Homo sapiens: one gene and its partner. The protein of the gene in region 1 purifies or fractionates together with the protein of each later gene. This does not show direct contact. Each region holds a gene or a part of one and is shown in the gene's direction. Other genes may lie near its edges.

Evidence for each region. Proteins that work in one complex are often made in the same cells at the same time.
Region 2: the proteins of SIDT2 (region 1) and AP3S1 purify together in Homo sapiens (co-immunoprecipitation; 2 studies listed by BioGRID and IntAct, with this or other methods). This does not show direct contact.

The regions. Positions count from the first base shown.
Region 1 is NC_000011.10:117,181,253-117,189,502, forward strand, and holds part of SIDT2 (SID1 transmembrane family member 2 precursor), read left to right. Parts: intron 1-163; coding exon 164-285; intron 286-554; coding exon 555-719; intron 720-807; coding exon 808-853; intron 854-1,266; coding exon 1,267-1,368; intron 1,369-1,470; coding exon 1,471-1,554; intron 1,555-2,526; coding exon 2,527-2,626; intron 2,627-2,821; coding exon 2,822-2,887; intron 2,888-4,877; coding exon 4,878-4,971; intron 4,972-5,331; coding exon 5,332-5,384; intron 5,385-6,125; coding exon 6,126-6,197; intron 6,198-6,375; coding exon 6,376-6,447; intron 6,448-7,455; coding exon 7,456-7,574; intron 7,575-7,916; coding exon 7,917-7,990; intron 7,991-8,082; coding exon 8,083-8,149; intron 8,150-8,250.
Region 2 is NC_000005.10:115,865,666-115,873,718, forward strand, and holds part of AP3S1 (AP-3 complex subunit sigma-1), read left to right. Parts: intron 1-1,004; coding exon 1,005-1,096; intron 1,097-4,351; coding exon 4,352-4,463; intron 4,464-8,053. UniProt on the Homo sapiens protein: Part of the AP-3 complex, an adaptor-related complex which is not clathrin-associated. The complex is associated with the Golgi region as well as more peripheral structures.

The DNA.
Region 1 (8,250 bases):
GGGGGTTGTTCTGGCAGAAGAAGAGGCAGAGATGACTCCCTGGCCCGACCAAGATGGAGAAAGACCAAAGTAGCTGGCATGAAGGAGGGCAGGGCTCATAGTCTCTGGAGCCACGTGTCCCTGGTGGCAGAGGCTTGAGAGGCATTTCCATGTCGTTCTGCAGACAGAGGGCGTGCGTGTGTCTGTGAACGTCCTGAACAAGCAGAAGGGGGCGCCGTTGCTGTTTGTGGTCCGCCAGAAGGAGGCTGTGGTGTCCTTCCAGGTGCCCCTAATCCTGCGAGGGATGTGAGTAGGATCTGGGCATCAGGGAAGCGGGGCAGCCTAGGCCAGTCCTTGGCTGGAGCCTCAACCAGGAGCCCCCCCATTTCTCCTCCCCTTTCCCTGGGCTGGGAGGCTGGTCAACAGCACAAGGGCCGAGTCCCACCAGCCGGGAGCTTGTGCACCTCGCAGGGAGGTGGTGGAGACCAGACGGGGCGAGGTGGGGCCTCGCTCCTCTGGAGGGGCAGGCCGGCTGGGACAGTGCTCACATCCTATCTCCCTGCTTCGGGCCATAGGTTTCAGCGCAAGTACCTCTACCAAAAAGTGGAACGAACCCTGTGTCAGCCCCCCACCAAGAATGAGTCGGAGATTCAGTTCTTCTACGTGGATGTGTCCACCCTGTCACCAGTCAACACCACATACCAGCTCCGGGTCAGCCGCATGGACGATTTTGTGCTCAGGTCTGCAGGGTAGAGTGAGGGGACCACGGGGGCTGGTTCTTCCCCAGGCTCCGGGGGTGACTGGTGGGGGCTCTTCTCTGCCCTGCAGGACTGGGGAGCAGTTCAGCTTCAATACCACAGCAGCACAGCCCCAGGTAACATCTCCCTGTTGATTGCTCGAGAGGAGAAATGGGGGAGCTTGAATATGAGAATGGGAGTGGCCAGCGGTCTTTGCTTGGCCTTTTGAATTGGCTGTTTTCTCCATGGAGGGCTCTCTGGAAACAGGAGCTCTGGCCCTGACATGGTGAGGGACAGACAGCATGGGACTGTACAGAGACATGGAGTCTGGTTGCCTCTCTGGCATTCTGCTGAGTGCCCTGCTGAGGTTGAAGGGAATGGTATACAGAGAAAGGGGCTGCTGTGATCAAGGCCTGTCTCCTCGGAGAGCCTCCACTGCCCACCCCTCAGAGGATTCTGGGTCCTCGCTTATAGGGGACTATTCCCTTCTAGAGGGGCCAAGAGAGCATCCTCATGAGATGGGGCTCTCCCTTCCTTCCTGCACCCTCAGTACTTCAAGTATGAGTTCCCTGAAGGCGTGGACTCGGTAATTGTCAAGGTGACCTCCAACAAGGCCTTCCCCTGCTCAGTCATCTCCATTCAGGATGTGCTGGTGAGTTGCCTGCCCTTTTGCTCTTCCCCAGCAGGCAGCAGGGCTGCTAAAGAGAGGGGCAGGCCAGGTTCCCATCCATCTGCCTCTCCCGCCCCTCTGCAGTGTCCTGTCTATGACCTGGACAACAACGTAGCCTTCATCGGCATGTACCAGACGATGACCAAGAAGGCGGCCATCACCGTACAGGTAGGAAATGCATGTGGCCACGTGGGAGGTGTGGCTGGGCGATAAGCTGTGTAGCTTTCCAAACTTGAGCTCTTCTTCCTCTGCCCATTCCTATCCTACACACGACTGAGTCTTTGGCCTTCCAGTCCCTGTGACTTTGAGTCCCCTGATATATATGAGAGTTGTACCATAATCCCAGTTGCTCTTGGGGATGGGAAAGAGTAGAGTACCCCCTTCTGGCTGTCATACCTACTTCATTCATTGTAACAATAAGAGGGCTGAGCGCGGTGGCTCATTCCTGTAATCCCAGCACTTTGGGAGGCCGAGGTGGGCGGATCACCTGAGATCAGGAGTTCAAGACCAGCCTGGCCAACAGGCTGAAACCCCGTCTCTACTAAAAATACGAAAAATTAGCTGGGCATGGTGGCGCATGCCTGTAATCCCAGCTACTCGGGAGGCTGAGTCAGGAGAATCACTTGAACCTGGGAGACAGAGGTTGCAGTGAGCCGAGATCACACCACTGCACTCCAGCCTGGGCAAAAGGAGTGAAACTCTGTCTCAAGAAAAAAAAGGTCAGGCGCAGTGGCTCACGCCTGTAATCCCACACTTCGGGAGGCTGAGGCGGGCAGATCACCTGAGATCAGGCGTTCAAGACCAGCCTGGCCAACATGGTGAAACCCCATCTCTACTAAAAACATAAAAATTAGCTGGGCGTGGTGATGGACGCCTGTAATCCCAGCTACTTGGGAGGTTGAAGCAGGAGAATTGTTTGAACCCGGGAGGCGGAGGTTGCAGTGAGCTGAGATCATGCCATGGCACTCCAGCCTAGGCAATAGGAGTGAAACTCCGTCTCAAAAAAAAAAAAAATCTTGTGAGGATTAAGTAAAATATATCTATGAAGAATTTAGCATAATGTCTGGCCCCAGAACAAGTATTTAGAAAAGAATGATGATGATGATGATGAAGAAGATATTTATCATCATCATCCTGCAGCGCAAAGACTTCCCCAGCAACAGCTTTTATGTGGTGGTGGTGGTGAAGACCGAAGACCAAGCCTGCGGGGGCTCCCTGCCTTTCTACCCCTTCGCAGAAGGTACATTTTGTGCCCTGGGCCTGGCTAGGGATGGGGAGGTCTTGGTCACTTTCTGGGAGCAAGAAGAGCCTGCGTGGCTGATTGGTGGACCTGATAGGACATGGGTTTTTGGCTCCAGTCTCTCAAAGGCCTGATCCCACTGACTCTAGCCAAGCTCCAGGCAACTAGTTTACCACTTTGACATTTTACTTCCAGATGAACCGGTCGATCAAGGGCACCGCCAGAAAACCCTGTCAGTGCTGGTGTCTCAAGCAGTCACGTGTGAGTGCTGCAGGTGGCTGAGAGGGGATGGACAAGCCTCTCTGGCTCCTGCTTTCAGACCTGGGATATAGGGTGTGCCCTGAAGTGGGTGATGAGGATGCAGATATGCTGGTGGGGTAGGAACGGGGAGTGTTCTTGGCAGGCTTCTAGATGGGGAGGGCCGGGAGGTGAGTTCCAGTGTGATGTGGTACAGAGAGTTCATGACTAAAGATGGAAGAACTGAGGTCCAGTTCACTTTCTGCCACTTATCAGCAGTGTAACCTGATTGTAAGAAAGAGCTTTAATTTTGCTTTGTTAGCATAGTTATAATCTTATTTATTCTGAAGGATGTTTCTTAATCTCATATTCAGAAACATACCCTAATTTGTCATTGAAACACTGCTATAAGATTGAGTCTCAGTTTCCCTGTCTCTATAACAGAGGGAGTAAAATTTGTCCAGTTAATCTCACTAAGTTATGAGGGCTAGCACAAAATTAGCAGATAAAATTAGCAGGAAAGTACCAGGCCCCTACTCAGTGCTCAATAAATATTTACTGAATGATTAAATGGGGCCCTAAGGGACTGTGATAGGAGGGGAAAGAAGGTGCCTCTCTTTCTTTTTTTGAGATGGACTCTTGCTCTGTCACCCAGGCTGTAATGCAGTGGCAAGATCTCTACTCACTGCAATCTCCGCCTCCCGGGTTCAAATGATTCTCCTGCCTCAGCCTCCTGAGTTGCTGGGATTACAGGCACCTGCCGCCATGCCCAGCTAATTTTTGTATTTTTAGTAGAGACGGGGGTTTCACCATGTTGGCCAGGCTGGTCTTGAACTCTTGACCTCAGGTGATCCGCCCACCTTGGCCTCCCAGAGTGTGGGATTACAGGCATGAGCCACCGTGCCCAGCCAGAGGGTGCCTCTCTCTCTCTCTCTTTTTTTTTTTTTTTTCCGAGATGGAGTCTTGCTCTGTTGCCCAGGCTGGAGTGCAGTGGCGCAATCTCGGCTTACTGCAAGCTCCACCTCCCAGGTTCACGCCATTCTCCTGCCTCAGCCTACCGAGTAGCTGGGACTACAGGTGCCCGCCACCACGCCCGGCTAATTTTTTGTATTTTTAGTAGAGAAGGAGTTTCACCGTGTTAGCCAGGATGGTCTCAATCTCCTGACCTCGTGATCCACCTGCCCCGGCTCCCAAAGTGCTGAGATTACAGGCGTGAGCCACCGCGCCCGGCCAGGGTGCCTCTCTTACATGGATTATTTATTCAGCAAATATTTATGGAGCACCTCCTATATGCCAGGTGGTATGCTAAGGCAGCAGTCCTTGGTGGGGGCGGGGTCCTGTCTAGAGGAACAGGAGGCAGTTAAGAGCTGTGGTGAGCAAGGAACAGGTCACTGTGGAAATACAGGACAGAGAAAGCTTCCTAGAGGACACAGTCCCTGAGCTGTGGTTTGAGGGTTAAGTCAAGGTGGAATTTTTGAGAGGCCAGGCACGGTGGCTCACGCCTATAATCCCAGAACTTTGGGAGGCTGAGGCAGGGAAATTGCTTGAAGCCAGGAATTCAAGACCAGCCTGAGCAACATAGCGAGACCCAATCTCTATAAAAAATAAAAAAATGAGCCAGGCGTGGTGGCACACATCTGTAGTCCCAGCTACTCAGGAGGCTGAGGTGGAAGGATGGAGCCTAGGAGTTGGAGGCTGCAGTGAGCTATGATCGTGCCACTGCACTCCAGCATGGGTAACAGAGTGAGCCCGTCTCAAAAAAAAAAAAAAAAAAAAAAAAGTAGAAGAGAAAGTTCTAGCCCAGGGAGCAACATGAGCAAAAATAGGAGTGTGTCAGAGTTTGGTGTATTAGAGGAACTGCCAGTTGTTCATACTGGCTAGGCAGGGCCTTACATTTGAGGGGAGAAGGGTGAGAGATTGAGCTGGGTGGAGGAGGACATGAAGGCCTTTGGGTGCCATGATGGGAGGTGGTGGAAGGTTTTGACCTGTCCACCTTCCTGTTTCCTCCTTGAAGCTGAGGCATACGTCAGTGGGATGCTCTTTTGCCTGGGTATATTTCTCTCCTTTTACCTGCTGACCGTCCTCCTGGCCTGCTGGGAGAACTGGAGGTAAAGTGGAACTGCTGGGCCTCCCCTGGTCTGGGTGGTTTGGGCAGGTGTGTGGGGCAGATCACCTGGCAGGATCTGAGCCAGCCTAGGGTAATCTACACCATCCATAGCAGATGATGGTGGGGCTGTTAGAGTCTGTGGCCCATGAGCCTCTCTAGAAACCATCCCCTCCCCTCAACCTTCTTCCCAAGCAGGGAGATCCCATGTTGCTCCCCAGCCTGTGAGGAACCCTGGGACAAAGGGTGGAGGACAGGGTCATAGCGATGAGAGTGGAGCAGAGAGGTAGAAGGAAAGTCAGCCCCATACAGAGTGATCCTTGTCCTGTCCCATCTGGGTGGCCTGTGGGTTCTGTCCATGCAGGCAGAAGAAGAAGACCCTGCTGGTGGCCATTGACCGAGCCTGCCCAGAAAGCGGTACCTCCAGGGGGCCTGGGTGGGGCGGGCACAGTGTGCTTTGTGTTTTGGGGGGTGGTGGTGGATGGTTCCCTAGGGGGTTGGAGGAGGAAGGGCTGGGGGTTTCTGGATGTTCAGATGGGGGTAACACTCCACAGATGGGAATGAGGCTGGGATATGATGTCCATGCATCCCTAACATGCACACCTCAGAGGCTGAGGTGTTGCTTGGTTTATTCCATGTCTAGCGATGGTGTCTGCCTGCCTTGGGCAGTGTGGCCCACGGTCTCTGGGATTATTAACCTTTCCTTCTCTCTCTCTTCCACCCCTCCCTCTCTTTCTGTCCTCCCTCCTGCGTGGGACCTTCTCTCTTAGCTTCTCTCCTTGGTAAGCTCCAGGTGCTGTGGGCAGAGGAGCTGGAGTCCAGAGTAGGGGAGGGAGGGTGCAGCACAGGGCTGTCTGGAGGGCTCGTGGGCGGGCCAGTGTTGTCTTTGTTGCTGGTAACTTAGATGTGCCTGTTCTTGAACTTTCTCTCTCCTTAGGGAAGACAAAGGGTGGTGCTGTTTCCATGGGAGAGGCAGGCAGGGGGCTGGGGCGGGTGGTGGTGGCAGCAGTGGGGTGTGTTTGCCTGGATAGGTGCTGCTTCTCGTCTGCTGGCATGGCCTCCCTGTGGCTGTCTTCTCTGGACCTTTCTTTGTTCTTCTCCCTGGCTCTAGGCCTCTCTCTTCGTCCAGTGCTAACAGACCTTGACTTCTCATTGCAGGTCACCCTCGAGTCCTGGCTGATTCTTTTCCTGGCAGTTCCCCTTATGAGGGTTACAACTATGGCTCCTTTGGTACGTGTCAAAGCCAGCACCGTGCTTGCTGGGGACATGACCTTGTCTCCTTAGGCCACCACCTCCGAGGCGGTAAAGTGGGAGCCACCTCCTCCAGCCCCCACACCCTCTGCAGATGCTCAGAGCCCCTTTCCCTGCGGCCTCTCCTTCCTGCCTCACCACTGATCGTTCCCCACAGAGAATGTTTCTGGATCTACCGATGGTCTGGTTGACAGCGCTGGCACTGGGGACCTCTCTTACGGTTACCAGGGTGAGTGGGCCAGGCTGGGAGGGGCGGTGTGGTGCAGGACGGTGTTGTCTGGGTAAAATGTCACGGTGGGCGGTTGCCTCTTCTGCCAGATGCTGGAACCTGGGAAGGGCCTGCTGTCTTCCTAACCCCTCTCTTCCCTCATCCCCTCCTCCTTGGCCCCAGTTCCCTGGTAACTTTCCCTTTCCTTTGAAGGGCACGACCAGTTCAAGCGGCGCCTCCCCTCTGGCCAGATGCGGCAGCTGTGCATTGCCATGGGTAGACCTGGGGTGGGGGTAGGGCTGTTTTGCCAATCAGTGCCTGCCGGCTCCGGTTGACTGCCGGCTGTGGGGCCAGAAAGATTCTATGTGCATGGCTTCCCCATGTAATTCCAGTAATTGCCCGCTCTTGTGTCTTCTGAGATAGCAGCAGAGCACAGGCTCCTTTGGCTGGCGGGCTGGCGCCTCCGCTCTCTCCAGGCTGGACAATCTAGTTTATCGTCTGCGTTGCCAGCGCCCTCACTCCCTGGCCTGCTTGGGGAGGGCTCACAGGCATGGGGGTCACATTCTGGCCTCTGGATAAAGGAGAAATGCTCTTTCTGCACCCCAGGCCCACTGGGTCTTTAACCCAGTGGCAGCCAAGGCAGTGTCTTCTCAGAACCCACAGGGCTGGGCACCCTTGAATCAGCATGACTTGCCGAGTTCAATCCTGTTGTTTGTGTCTGCTGCCTGGGGTCTGCCTTGTGTCCTGGCCTGGGAAGCCCTAGCCCATGAGGGGTGCCAGGAACAGAGCAAAGCTAGAGCGGCCCCTGTGTGGTGGCCTCTTCTAGAGTCTACCATCATCCCCCAGGACTTAGGAGCACCTGATGTCTCCTCCCAGCTCCTGAGCCCACTTCCACCCCAACTCTGAGGCCCAGCCCACAATTTGCCTCTTCCCTACTGCCTAATAATTGTTACAATTGCCTCAGATGGGCGAGGGCCACTGTGGGTTTTGTGTCCACCGGTGCAACCCCTCCCTCCCTGCCCTTTCCAGGCCGCTCCTTTGAACCTGTAGGTACTCGGCCCCGAGTGGACTCCATGAGCTCTGTGGAGGAGGATGACTACGACACATTGACCGACATCGATTCCGACAAGAATGTCATTCGCACCAAGGTCTGACCCGTGGGCCTGGCCTGGTCAGGCGTTTCCTGAGAAAGGGACATTCTGCGTTCCCGCCCCAGCATGTTCCCACTGACGTGGCATTTAGGGAAGCAGAAGGAAGGGGCTCAGCTGGGGCAGGGCAGATGCCGGGGAAACTAACCTGACCTCCAACCCCTTCCGGCCTGATTGGCCAAACCCTCTTGGTCTAAGCGGCCGCAGCAGTGGGATGTCCTTGAACCCTGCCCCCCTGAATTCGGCCCTGTGTGAGGGAGGCCCCTCTTGTCCACCTCTAACCTGGGGGAGGGGGCTTCTCCCAAGTAGCAGTAAGTGGGGCTGATTCCAGCTTCTCCCCAGCAATACCTCTATGTGGCTGACCTGGCACGGAAGGACAAGCGTGTTCTGCGGAAAAAGTACCAGATCTACTTCTGGTGAGTGGGCTGAGTGTCTGGGGCTCTGCTGTTGGTGGGTGTGTGGCAGCCTTGGGTGCCACCCACCTCACTGCCGCCCTCCTGCTCCGCAGGAACATTGCCACCATTGCTGTCTTCTATGCCCTTCCTGTGGTGCAGCTGGTGATCACCTACCAGACGGTGAGAGGGCAGGGCAGGTTCACCTTTCCGACAGCCTAGGACACCGCCCCAAAGTGCAGAGCCTCCCAGCCTGGGGCCCTGGTGTTCCATCACAGGACCTG
Region 2 (8,053 bases), on another chromosome or scaffold:
TAATTTGTATTTCACTTAATTACTACTGCGATTTAGTATCTTTTCATTTCTTTGTGGACCATTCACATCCTTTCCTGTGAAATTGGTGTTCATGATTTTGGTCAGTCTTCTATTGCAGTGTTTAGGAAGCTTACTCTTGTTTTGTTTTGTTTGAGATAGAATCTCACTCTGTCGCCAGGCTGGAGTGCAGTGGCGCGATCTCAGCTCACTGTAATCTCTGCCTCCTGGGTTCAAGCGATTCTCCTGCTTCAGCCTCCCGAGTAGCTGGGATTACAGGCACGTGCCACCACACCCAGCTATTTTTGTATTTTTAGTAGAGACGGGGTTTCACTGTGTTGGCCAGGATGGTCTCGATCTCCTGACCTTGTGATCCACCCATCTCGGCCTCTCAGAGTGCTGGGATTACAGGCATGAGCCACTGTGCCCGGCCAGGACGCTGACTCTTACTGGAATATGAATTGCTTGGTCCAGGTTAATAAATGTTTATTGACCCAATCCTTGGCTTTAGATCGGCTTATATAAAGATGAGTAAGATGGATGGACTCTTACCTCAGTCTATATTTAGTAAAGGTTAAACTTAATTGGAAGCTCCATAGTTCTATTTCTTTCCTCCATTCAAATATAGATTAGCTACACTATTTATATCTTTACCTTTCTGATTCAGTTTACTCATTTGTAAGATAATCAGCTTTGACTAGTTAATATCTAGTTTCCCTTTTACCAGTGTATGTAATTCATCTAATATTTTTTCTTGTTGGTTTTTGAAACTTAGAAATGTGTTACTTTTATTATAGTGGTAAATATAAATAATTGGGTTTTTTTTCTTTTTCATCAAAAAATACTGGGTTTTGCTTCTGTAAGGTATAATTTAAGTCACTTCTCCAAGGACCCCTCTCTTAGATGGATTTCCCAGACAGATATTGCTACCTTTGATTTTAAAAATTCTTAAAATGCTATTAAACCTATACACTCCATCCTAATATATATGAATTATTCTTCCTCAGAGTGAAGATACACAACAGCAAATCATCAGGGAGACTTTCCATTTGGTATCTAAGAGAGATGAAAATGTTTGTAATTTCCTAGAAGGAGGATTGTAAGTAAAGCATTTCATAGACATTTCTAAGTTTTGACTATGTGATTAAAATATATACTGTTTAATCAGTTTATGGTAAAAGTTTTCTACTTTTGATTAATTGGATTAGGTGAATTAATTGCCACCTATGTTAGCTATAAATCTAACTTAAAGAATTATTTTTAAAAGATATGCAATCTTTTTTCCTCTTAAAAATTTTGGAAGGGAATTTTATATAAAGGTAATATATTAAATCGTAAAAATTCCAACATTACAGGGAAGTATAAAATGTAAAATAAGAATCTCTCAACCTTAGTCCTTCTACCCAATTTCTTGTGTATCCTTCTAGAAAATAGTTTGTATTGACTAACATATAAAGTATGTTATATGTGTTGACTAACCTACAACCTTAAAATTTTTATTTATGAGATCACACTTTGTATGCTCATTTGCATGTTGCTGGTTCTCAGTATTTTCAAAAGCTTTGCATAGAAACACATCTAGGACAAGCTTATTCTTTTTAATGACTACAGAGTATTCCTTTTTGTGAATGTTCATAAAAATTAGATTACATTCTTTATTTTACTGTTACAAGACTGAAGTCTGTTTTTCAAATATACCTAATTCAGCTAATCAATTTTTCTATTTTTAAAATGAATAAGAATATTGCCAAATATTACAAACAAATACTTTTAAACTAATAACTTCCATGAAAATGGTTTGTTCTCAAACATAAATCAGTCAGAGAAACTTAGAATTTTCTGTATTTTACTGTGTATGATGGATGAGAAATACTCTGGATAACAGGGAATCCATGGTCATAAGGTACTTTTTATCATGTGGAACACTTAACTTGGGTTTCCTGAAAGATTATATCATGCTGTCCTTAAATGTCCAATACATACTTACAAATTTTGCTGTTAACTCAAGGCTTCTAATTTAATAATTGAGACAAGTGTACCTGCTTCTGTTTTTGAATTTTACTTGTACTTATTTAATTTTAGTTGTCTTTGACATTACTATCACTTCCTCTCATCCTAGCCTCTTGATTTCTTATCTCCTAGGAAACTTACCACCCAGCACAGTGCACTGCATGTAAGAACTTGATTAATCTTACTAGGGTGCTATTTGAATTAGAAATTGTGGCTGGAAATTGTGATTGTTCTTTTTTAACCTTACAAAAAATAGAAAGCAAATATTGCAGCAGAGATGAGGCCTCACATCTAGTTTAATCCTAGTTTTGTCACTAACTAGCTGATTTCCTTGGACAGGTTACTTAAATTCTCAGGCCTCAGTTTTCTCCTCTATAAAATGAGTTATTTGGACTAACAGGATTTCTCAGTCCTGTGGTTTTATATGATGTATTACATTCTGTACAGGAATTTTTGTCAGTATTATACTATAGCTTAAAGATAAGATTATATTTTTAAAGGCAAAATATGTACTTGCCGCATTAATATTTTGCTTGCTTTTAATAGCATTACTGGCCTTTTTGAAACTTATATTCTTCAGAAGTTTGCTGTCCTTTTAAAGTAAAGCAAAAGTTTTAAGATAATCACTAAATCGCTGATTCAGAATGGAGTAAAGCCTCCTATTTGTGTTCTTTTTGCCTCTTTCAGGGAACAATTGCAGTCATAGTCTGTAAATATACTCTCAGAATCTTTAAATTGCATGTAGATATTTTTAAATTAAACATCTTCTCTAGAAGAGTATCTAGCATAGTAGGAAATTTTTATTCTTGTCAAAGATCATTTCTCCTTTTGCTATTAGAAGACATAGAAGTAGTATATACCTTGGGAAGTTGTTTCTACAGAACTTATAAGTTTAGTATTATTTTTACTGTGTAAGAAATAGATGCTGGCCAGGCGCAGTGGCTCACGCCTGTAATCCTAGCATTTTGGGAGGCCTAGGCGTGCAGATCTCCTGAGCTCAGGAGTTCGAGACCAGCCTGGGCAACATGGTGAAACCCCATCTCTACTAAAAGTACAAAAATCAGCCAGGTGTGGTGGTGTGCGCCTGTAATTGCAGCTACTTTGGTGGCTGAGGCAGGAGAATTGCTTGAAGCCAGGAGGCAGAGGCTGCAGTGAGCTGAGATAGCACCATTGCACTCCAGCCTGGGTGACAGAGTGAAACTCTGTCTCAAAAAGAAAGAGAGAGAGAGAGACAGAGAAAGAGAGGATGAAGGGAGGGAGGGAGGGAAGGAAGGAAGGAAGGGAGGGAGGGAGGGAGGGAGGGAGGGAGGGAGAGATGCCATTTTCCCATATTCTGTTGGGATGGATGTTAGTTTAATTTTGGTTACATATAGCCTTGATTGTAAATTATGTAAGTGTTTAGGGGTCTTTTAAGAAGGTGAATTCATTATTGTAAACTTAACTATGAAATAGCTAAACTATATTTAGAAAAATATGTTTGGAATGATTCCTAAATTATTATTTCTAAAATACTAAAATTCCAGTCATTATAAATAAAAGTATTTCATGAAAGAGTTTAGTATCTTAGCTCAGTTTTCTTGCATTTATGTCAAAACAATGTAATTTTGGAAGAGATCTTGACGGTAAATCTATCCAAAACTTAAGAAGTGTCATTCTTCTTTTTTTTCTGGTTGATAATCAGTCTTAAGCTGTGTAACTTACTGTGACGTATGGAGTTAAATCTAGTAAGCACTTACAAATGCCCCATGATCTAATTTCCGCCTACTTCTCTGACTTTATCATTTACTAATCTTTTCTTATCTACTGGCCTTTTTTCTCTTCCCTGAACATACATACTTTGTTCTTGATGAAATGTCCTTTTAGTACTTACTACCTTAGCCTGAAATGCTCTTCTCTAAATTTTTTCCAAGCCAACTCCTTATCATTAGATCTCAGCTTAAATGCCACTCTTGCTTAATATTCAGCCTGAAGTAGGGAACCCATCAATATATCATCATTGTATTTTGATTGTCAGTGTAACACTTGCCACTATCTGATGATGTTCTGATGTGTGTGTTTGTTGCTTCTTCCCCACTACCAGTGCTTGGCACATAGTAGTTACTCAGAGAATAGTTTAATGAATGAATGAACTGAAATTAAGCACTGGCTTCTTTTACTTGATGTTTCTGAAGAAAACAGCCACCTTAATTCACCTAGTCTCTGAATAAGTTCACTTAAATACTTTGCCATTGAATGTCACCTTTCATTTGACAAGTGGTTTTTAAACAAATTGTCAGTTTGCTTGAGCTAATGAAAATGATTCGCATTTTGTTTCCAATAACATTACAATTTTTTTGTCATTTAGATTAATTGGAGGATCTGACAACAAACTGATTTATAGACATTATGCAACGTTATATTTTGTCTTCTGTGTGGATTCTTCAGAAAGTGAACTTGGCATTTTAGATCTAATTCAAGTAAGTTAACACTTGCTTCTTACTATCTTAAATAACAGTTTGACATTTAAATTTTTAAAAACTTATATATTCTAAATTTTCTAAAATGATGTTAGTAAGAAATAAAGCATTTCATAATAGATATTGTGTTGGTAAAAGAGGTCAGAGGACATAGAAACAAGCAAACATTTGATCTGATTAAAACTATCATAACTAGTTTAATCATGACATTTTATCTTGCTCATGTAAGTTACAGCAAGGAGCTTAAGACTCGTGGGTTTCTTAACACATGTATCCAAAACTAACCCTAAACCCTACCTCTCCCTGTCTCCTGAAAATCTTTCATAATGTCCCTGGAACTCAAGGTCAGTCATCAGCAAATTTCTTTTTATCTTCAGCCTCTTCTGTTAATATTACTTTACATTTTGCTCTAAATTAAATCTTGCTTCCCTGATGATACTACGTGCAACCCTTTGAAGTAGTGGCCATTTTCTCTCCTGCTTCTTTCTGCCTTTGAGCCTGGAGGTGTAATCTTAGCTTCTCATTGCATTTTCCAGACCATTCTTTCTTCTCAAACACCTCCAAATTTTATCTTATGTTATCAGACTATACCACCTTCTATCCATTTAGTTATAGTCATCACTCATCTCCATCTCTCCTTCATTGGAGATTTTGTTAAGAATTGTGAAGGGTCTGAGATTTGCTCTACTTGCAAACTAAGAAGTTAACCTGCCATAATTTCATGGATGCTGGCAGAAGGCAGGAGATTTCTGGGCCAGAGACAAAGGACCTTATTACTAATAGCAAAAACATTAGCTAAAGTGACAGCATTTGCTTGCACGAATTCTCTAATTCCCAAAGGGTGATATGAAGAGGTCCAGATGATACCTGCACACACAGTGGATTAAATGACAGATGAGGAACGCCAAGTTTAGGGAACTGGAATCTTTTATAATGGATACTAAGCATGTCTGCCCTTGTTTGGAAGGAAGACTGTCTCTTCCAAGAGTGTAAGGAAACCTATCCTTTGCTGTGGAAGAAGACACTGTCTATTTTCCAGGGCTGTTTGATATACAAGCATGCTTAAAAAGATAGCCCAGAACAAAGACAGTCAATGCCTCTGCTCACAATACGTGTGGAAACACAAGATCCATCTAAAATTGTCTCCTAATAGATTTTGGTTCTTGGTTCCCTGGCATTCATTCCAGTACTGCTTGTTTTGTAATTCTTGGTGATTCCATTGTTCATATGTATAATTCTCCCAATATCCTGGTGTCTTCAAAATCTGGAACTCCTCTCTTCCAATAAATTTTGCCCTCCACTCCATCTCACTATGTACCCATTTCTAGATTTTATCTTTGTCTAAACTGTAACCCCTCCATAATCTCAATTTCACAGTTTTGAAGTCGTTAGACCTATTGCAACCCTCAGTTTTAAAAATCCATCATTTTTTTCACTCTGATTTTACTGATGTCTTACTTTCCTTATCCAGCTTAAATTTCATAATCATGGTAGTGATATAGCCTTGTGTACACTGAACTCCTTGCCCACACCCATACATCTGAACATACCTAGAGGAAAAAAAAAAGTAACCATATTTACCAGTCTCACTTTAAATTAATGATCCCTTAGCTCATTGAGTCCTTTATGCTACGCAAGAATCATTTTCTGTTTCCCCGGTCCATTTACTCTCCCATACCTCTAGATGACTACTCATACAGTCTCCTCTCTCCTAAAATATCTAGCACTTCTAGCACCTTGCTTCCCAGTGCACAGATAAAATTGGCTTTTGAAGTTAGCAAGAAGGTGGCATGGTTTGAGCTCTAGTTGGCGTTACAGAATAGACAAGAAATTAACCCAAGCAGACAACTTAGGTAACAAATTCTTAGCACTGTGGCTAAGGCTTTAAAAATAAAAACATTGTGGCCAGGTGTGGTAGTTCACACCTGTAATCCTAGCACTTTGGAAGGCTAAGCTGAGCAGATCACTTGAGCCCAGGAGTTCGAGACCAGCCTGGGCAACCCCATCTCTACAAAAATTAGACAGGCATGCTGTTCTGCACCTGTCGTCCCAATCACTTGGGAGGCTGAGGCGGGAGCCAGGGAGGATGGCTTGTAGTGAGCTGAGATTGTGCCACTCACTCCAGCCCAGGTAACAGAGTGAGACCCTGTCTCAAAAAAAATAGAAATAAAAACATTGTTAATAAAATAAAAAAGGAGATAAATGATAAATTGATCTATTTGTATGCCATATTACTCTTAAATCTGTAATTCTTAAACTGGGTTTTTGGGAGGAGCTGGGTATCAAAGTTACATGAAACCACAAGGTAATCATGGCACATATTCCTGGTATATGTTTCTTCTTTGTTTTGAAGATTGGCGGCAGTGAGGAAATGAACGTAAACATGTATATATTATGAGGTAGAATACAAATTTTTCATAATATTTAAAGCTCTAAGTGGAGACTTGAAAGAAATTTTGAGCTTGAGGTAAAGGTGCCCCAAGATCCCTTGGGTATATGTTCACTTTCCTCCTGGGGCCTACTTGAGAAACACTGCTGAGTTATGTTTTGCTTTCTCAAGGCTTTTCTAGTAAAGAAAAAGAAGCCAAATCTTACTTTTGATGACATTGAAGGGTTGATCAGGACTATATATTGCATTGCCTTGTAACTTTGTTTATTCTTACATTTCTTAGTTTATCCCACCTAGGGGAGTAGTTAATTCATTTTATCATTATGTCAAGAGAGCATTATATTTTTACAGAAAAAAAATTAATATAGAACCATGCTTTCTATTTCTCTGTTTCCCATGACTGAAGAGAGTGGTAGACATGCACACTATGTTCCAAAACACTGTTTTTATTTACCTGAGCCTAGCCACTAGAATTACAGGAAGAAAAACAGGAGAAAGTGTACCATTTCAAATTTAGTCTCTTATTGAAGAGAAATGTTGCTATTAAGAAAGACCAAAACAAATGTGTCTTTTCCTAGAGGTAAATCAGAAGTATTTTATGCTTGCGTCCTGAGATTAAGTCATCACCATTGATTATTATTTTGATGCTGTTGTTGATCTTCTTATGAGAAAGTAGTTCTATCTCCAAAGGGGATTAGATGGGGAGTTTTCAAAGAACAAACATGGTATTAATATATCATATCCAAAGTAAATTCTGTCATGTACTCGTGGAAAGTAGAAACTATCTTTTGTGTTTTGCAAAATTTTTTATCCATGCTTCACACGTTGATCACTTGTTTTGATATTAGATAACATACAGAAGAAAGGATTTCAGGAGGACTTTGTCATTTTCCGATTACTAAAGTAGGCTAGAGCTGTTTTTACAATACCCCTGAGTTACCACATGCTGATGTATTGTGTCACAAAAAAGAAGATTTCTGTAATTCACCTTATAGGTACTATGTCTGTCACTATCAGGAACATGTTGGAAGTTCTGTGGTTGTGATCTTTCCCCTTCAATTACCACAGTTCATTAAATACTGAAGAGGGAGTGTACTGAGCACACATGAGTCAGTCACTTTAAAAAACATCAGTTGAATAAACAAAGATGGAAGTGCATAGCTTATTATTTCTGCTTCTGTTTCATCAAATAGCTATTCAG